Linked DNA regions of Homo sapiens: region 2 is linked to region 1. The links come from fine-mapping of genetic effects on plasma protein levels. Region 1 holds a variant in brackets. A gene starts in the other region. All regions are shown on their reverse strands.

Region 1 (2,899 bases):
GCTGCACGGGCGCATTGAGGTTGCGCTCATCCGACAGGTGGATACTCTTGAGAATGGTGCGCTCTGAGTAGAGCAGGTAGCCGGCATACTCGCGGCACGATGCTCCGTCTTCAGCCAGCATCCCGTGGGCACAGGCGCAGGCCCGCTGCCCACGGCCCCGGTACAGGCACAGCTGCTGGCACCCGCCATTGGCCACCGCGCACACGTTGGTGCCTGGGGGAGGGGAGGGTACAGAGGGCAGGGCCTGCCTTGGGAAAGGCTCACTGGTGCCTTTGTCATCCAGGCTTTGGCGAAAGCTCTGCCCTCTGCCTCGGTATTCCCAGCTTGAATGACCCTCCAGGGCCCAGAGTCCAATGCCAAGATCTGTCCCAGAGCACCTCAGCCTTTCCTCCCCATCCCTGGGTCTCTCGGGCCATCGGAAGTTGCCCCATGGGTCTAACTTGTCTCCCAGCCCTCTCACACTGGGTTCCCTGGGGAGCACTCTCCCAGGCCAGAGTCCCCCTCACCTCTCCACCCCAGCCCAGAGCCCCAGCCTCACCTTTCTGCCGGTCCCGGTTGAAGACTTTGATGTCTTTAAGCTGGACGCCGATGCCGGTTCGCAGGGGCACGGAGTCTGTGGCATTGTCTTTGCTCCCGCGCTTGATAGAGCCGTTGGCATGAGTCCTGAGGGAAGGACAGGGCACAAGCAGGGCATCAGTGGAGGCAGGAGGGAAGGAAGAGATCAGCTGAGGAGGCCAGGACAGAAGCCCTCACCTGTCACTCCAGTAGATGAAATCCTCAAACACAGACACTGAAAACATGTCCATGTTGTTGCTGGACAGAACCACCTCGCGGTTCTCACCTGTCTCCAGGTCGATCCGTTCAATCTTGTCTGTCCGTGCATCGCACCAGTACAGCTTCCCATCCTACAGGCCAGAGGCACCCACCTCACCTCCAGGGCTGAGCTCGCTGCCAGCCCCATGTCTGGGGCAGCAGGGAGTGCCTGGGCCAGAGTGAGGCCCTCAGTTCAGCCTCCCCTAACTCACTCCTGCCTCCTGCATACACTCCTGCCCACTGCCCTGCTGATAAGGTGACCTCCAGGCATCTCTCCACTCCCCCACTCCCCACTTCTGAGCGACCCCTGCCCATCATCTCTGTGGTAGCAGGAGTCCTACTCTGGGTGGAGGGCTGGGCTGGGAGACCCTGTGACTTCCCCTGGGCTCCAAGTCCTCCCAGAATGGGCTCATCACAGGGAACAGGAGCCTGGGTCAGGGGTCTACCATCGGATCCAAGGCCAAGTTGGCGTGCGAACCTGGTAGTCCACTGAGATGCCGTTGGGCCAGCTGATGCTGACGTTGACCAGCACCACACGCTCCGTGCCATCTAGCCGAGACCGCTCAATACGCGGATACTGACCCCACTCAGTCCAGAACAAGTACCTGTAGGGTGGGGGTGGAAGTGGGGGTCAGTCCTCAGACCCTGGAGGAGACAGGGCCTCATCAGCATGGGCCATGGGCAGAATGACAAGGCCAGTCTTTCCAGCTCCTCACCCTTTCTCCGGGTGGACGGTGATGGCCCGGGGCTTGTCTAGACCCTGGGAGATCACCACGTAGCGGAAGGAGCCATTGAGCC[G/A]GGCGACCTCGATGACATCAAAGCCCTGGTCTGTCCAGTAGATGTTGCCTAAGGAGGGAGTTGGTGGGGCTCAGGGAGGTTAGGTGAGGACAGGTGGACCTGGTGTCTCCAAGCTCCCAGGCACCCCTACAGCTCCTCTTCCTGCTCCCGCCAACTCCTCCTCTCACTTCGTCCCCCAGTCCTCTGCCACACCCCAAGCCCCACAAACCTGCCCACTGCTCACCTGCGATCCAGTCCACTGCAATGCCCTCCACACGGCCAATGCCATTGGTCACCACGTCTTCACGCCACGTCTGGTCCCGCTTGGCCCGGCTGATCGTGCTCAGGCCCATGTCCACCCAGTAGATGGTGTCATTTTCTGGAGGTGGAGGAGGTGACATGGGGATGCCCAATAAGGCAGGGGTAAGGTGAGGGGTCAAAATCTCACAAGGCTCAAGACAGAGGTGAGAGAGTGCCGGAGGGGCCAGGTGCTTGAAGGGGAGGTGGAGTCAGGGTGGCAGCTGTAGCAAGTGCCCCACCTCAGGCCAATTCAGGCAGCCTCTCACTGGACCCTCAGGGCACACCACACCACCCCTAAAGCTCCTACGCCACGCCCAACTCCCTCTGCCACCAAATGGCTCACCAGCGTGGAAGTCGATGCCGACAGCCAGCGAGGTCCCGGACACTGGGACCAGGGCATCTGACTTGTCATTGGGATCCAGGGGAATTCCCCTGATTCCCTCATGCACAGAGTACAGGAGAAAGGAACCTACGCCTGAAAGACAAGGAAACTTAAGGCATGGGTATCGCCAACACTCCCTTAAACTTGGTTCCTGTCACCCTCCAACTGTTCTCTGCTTCTCCTTTGATATCATCCCCCCCCACCATCATCCCTATCCTCCACCCAGCACACACACCCTAGCCTGAGGCCAGAGCATGGGCCGGGAGGAAGCGCACCTGGCTGGTAGCTCTGGGGAACCACCTGCAGGACCCCTAGCCACCATGAGAGGGCAGCAGAGACTCGGATTTCTCACCCTGTGCTCTGCCGGCCTCCACCCAGCACAACCCAACCCTGCACCCCTGCAAGTTCCTTAGGGAAAGTCTGGGAGTTCAGACCAGACAATCAGGACTAGGTGACTCCAAAATCTAGACTTCCAGTTTGGTGCTCAGCCTGATCCTAGTTTCCTCTTTGTCCTCCCTCTGTCTGGTCTATGCCACACCCTCTCTCCAACATCAAAAACTCAACCCCCTAAGGTCACTCCGAAGCCAGTCTCATTCCCAGTTATCCCATTTCTTTTTCTTTTCTTTT
Region 2 (2,899 bases), not on the chromosome of region 1:
ATCCTCTTCCCCTATGGCTTCATTCCCGTTGTCAGTACCCCGACCTCAGCTTGCAACCTTGATCTTGGGCTTGATTATAAATGACGAAAGACCGCGGCAGCCTTCAAAGTGCGGGAGCGAGCCCCGTACTGGTCAGCGCGGCGGAGGGATCTTTCCAGGAGGCCCCAAGCCCCCAAGCCTGTGGAGAGACTTGGTAACAGCTGGCAAGGCCTGCTCCAGCCACCCTCGCTGGCTCCTTGCCCCTGCATTCAGCGCCTGAGGGCGTTATTCGCCCTCTCCCTGCGTCCCACGCAAGCGGCTCAAGGAACTCACTCGATCCGGATTCCGCCTCGTATGCTCTCCAAGCCTTCGCCACCTCCGCAGGCGCTCTAGAAAGGCGTGATGGCCCCAGCTCAGTGCCCGCCAGCCCGAAGAGGACAAGCAGGGCTGGAAGGGACTTGGTTTTGGAAAAAGCCCCACCCGCCCCCACCAACTGGAAGGAAAAGGAATTAGTATCCACCGCATCTGTTTAACTGCTAATAGATCCCAGATTACGGGCAGGTAGTAGGTTGGTGTCTTTAGATACAACAGCCTGATAATAACGCTGGTGACATTAACAACAGCTTGTGGAGGGGAGAGGGTTGTTACTGGTGAAAGTTAAGAGATTCAATCTAGGGAAGTAGGAGACTGAACTCTGACAAGGTTAGGGGCACTGAGAACCCCAATTTAGCATCGATGCATCTACCAGGCAAGAAAATTTGCGTTTTGACCCAGAACTCAGTCATGATGCTCCGTAGAGGAGGTGGATTCGACCAGCAGACAGATGTCCCCAAAGTCGAGAGAGAGCTAAGCTGCCTATTTTCTCTCCAGGTGAAAGACAAAGCCTAGAGCACCCCACTTAAGATGACCACCCCCAGCTCTTTCAAAAAAAAAAAATCCCCCGAAGAGACAGCGTGGTGCCAGCGTAGCAGCAGCTCGGCCGGTTACTGGAAACTTCACCTGGCAACGCAGCCCCTTTTACCTGACGGCTGCGTCTTCTCCTTGCAATGGGCTCATCCGAATCCGACAGGGTCAGGGAGGTGGAAAGGGAAGACGCTGGCGCGGCAGCAGCGGGGATCCCGGGGCATGGTATTGTTTTAGGGGTCGCCGCCGAGGTCCCTCCTGCCCATCGTTGAGAACTGCCACCCTGATCCCAGGGCTCGGTGGACACGGCGGCGGGAGCGGAGATGCCGCCTCGCCGCTGCTGGGCACCAGGGACGGAGGACCAGAGGCGCACCTCGGAAAGGAGTAGCTCAGCGCCTTGGCGCGGAGATTTGCGGGCACTGATGATATCTCGAGCGCTCGTTCCTCCGCGGTGACAATGGATAATGCCAAACGCGCAAGTGACGGCGACAGGTTTCGAACGTACAACTAACTACAAGGTACCCAGCCTGAGACAGTATGCTGCTTTTCCCCTCCTCCTCCTCTCCCTCCTACCAGGGAGGGAACTAACTTAACCCTGTGTGCGCCTGACACTCCCTAGAGAAGCTGGGATCGACTAGGAAACCGCAGGCAGCGGCTCCCGGGGGCGAGAGCTTTGTTCACGTGCGTTTCCAGTGGGTGTGTTGCTGTCTAGGGGCACTCGCGTGGCAAGACGCCCGTGGCTGGCTTCCAGCGCCCAAGATTCAAGGAAGGGAAGGAGCCCTAGCGTTTCATCCGGACCAGACCCAGCCCTCGGAGTCTATTTTTTGCCTCCAGTTACCGGATTTATTGAAGTTGCCAGCGAAGTTGGTTTTATTCCTTTACTTCTCTGCTCTCCGCCCCCGTCCACATCCCCCAACCCTGTATTATTTCCTGTCCTAGCTGCGCTTTAAAGATTCGGAACTTTTCACTCGTTCTAGCTACAGATTTTAACTGTGTTCCGTGTGCGAGACGAATTGTGGAGGGCACCCACCCACCCATGCCAAGTGTAAATGAAACCGCAAGAAAAGCTGCCTCCCACTCACCCATCCAGTGTCCGAGTAAGCCTAATGACACACATTCACATAACTAAGAAGACACGGGAAGATAGGGGTGCGGAGGACGGAGTTTGATGTGTGAATGGGAAATGGAGAGAGGGGACAGCGCGCGCGAGAGAAACAGCGCGAGCCTGAGCCTTAGAATGGAATAAACGGGAAACACACACAAGAATGACGATGCAAAAAATGTATCTAAGTCCCAACATTGACAGCAGAGGGTCAGCTTTAAGCGCCTACATTTTGATCCGCGAAATTTCCCAGCTTTTTTGGAGGCGGTTACATAGAGAACACAGGAGCCTCTGCCTTGGCCGCCCAGATGCTTTGCATTTTGTAAACAGCTTTGACTAAGTGCTCTGGACTTCCAAGAAGTTAACTGGAGTGGAAGGCGAGTCATATTGTGGATGCGGAATGGAAGCTTAGACAAGAAAAAACTGTCAGCAGAGCGCCTCTGCTCTCACCGTCACACCCAAATGAGCCAGGACGTCGCTCAGAGCGCAAACTGAGATCCACACAGGGACATCTTCAACCGAATCTTTCTTCTGTCTCCATTCCGGACTAAGGAAAGAAAGAAAGAAATACGGAGCCTTTATAGAGTATTCAGAGGCTACACACATGGATCTTGCTGAAACGGAGTTATTTAAAAACAGAGAAAGTGTGTTTTCCCATGAGATAGATGTTATAGTTTCTCTCTGAAACATACCCAAGTCTATGGGTGTCAATAATAGCCATTTCAAATGCCTCTCTGAGCCTTGCCAGCCCCAGAAGAGGCTGTGGGAATGCTGCTTCCAGCTTCCCCTGTGCAGAACTCCGTTGTAAATCCTTCTGAGTTTCCAAGGTGGCAGCAGAGCATAGGGATAGCTCCTCAAGCTCCAGCATCAACAAGGAAGATCACATTTTAGGACAAATACTCATCTACCTGCATT

Which allele goes with the higher level. Alleles are on the strand shown, and positions count from the first base shown. The strength of an association depends on the size of the effect and on how common the allele is.
As copies of G replace A in region 1, the plasma level of the protein whose gene starts at base 1,391 in region 2 goes down (weak association).

Evidence for each region. PIP is the posterior inclusion probability: the model's chance that the variant is causal. The UK Biobank Pharma Proteomics Project read protein levels with antibody pairs (Olink). The fine-mapping took linkage between variants from a reference panel, not from the people measured, so its PIPs are less certain.
Region 2: FLRT2 starts here. The variant in region 1 is fine-mapped to the plasma level of the FLRT2 protein (UK Biobank, PIP 0.93).

What each region holds. Positions count from the first base shown.
Region 1 is chr12:57,182,845-57,185,743 of GRCh38, reverse strand. It overlaps LRP1 (LDL receptor related protein 1), which reads right to left. Exons shown (of 89, transcript NM_002332.3): 35 at 2,234-2,365; 36 at 1,835-1,969; 37 at 1,530-1,659; 38 at 1,292-1,418; 39 at 754-905; 40 at 539-663; 41 at 1-213. Among named protein-coding and RNA genes, the nearest start is that of MIR1228, 10 kb to the left of the region's middle. RefSeq lists a silencer at 2,633-2,682. The variant G/A (reference allele first, on the strand shown) is at 1,612.
Region 2 is chr14:85,528,636-85,531,534 of GRCh38, reverse strand. It overlaps FLRT2 (fibronectin leucine rich transmembrane protein 2), which reads right to left and starts at 1,391. Exons shown (of 2, transcript NM_013231.6): 1 at 1,001-1,391. FLRT2-AS1 (FLRT2 antisense RNA 1) reads left to right here. Exons shown (of 2, transcript NR_184170.1): 1 at 1-2,899.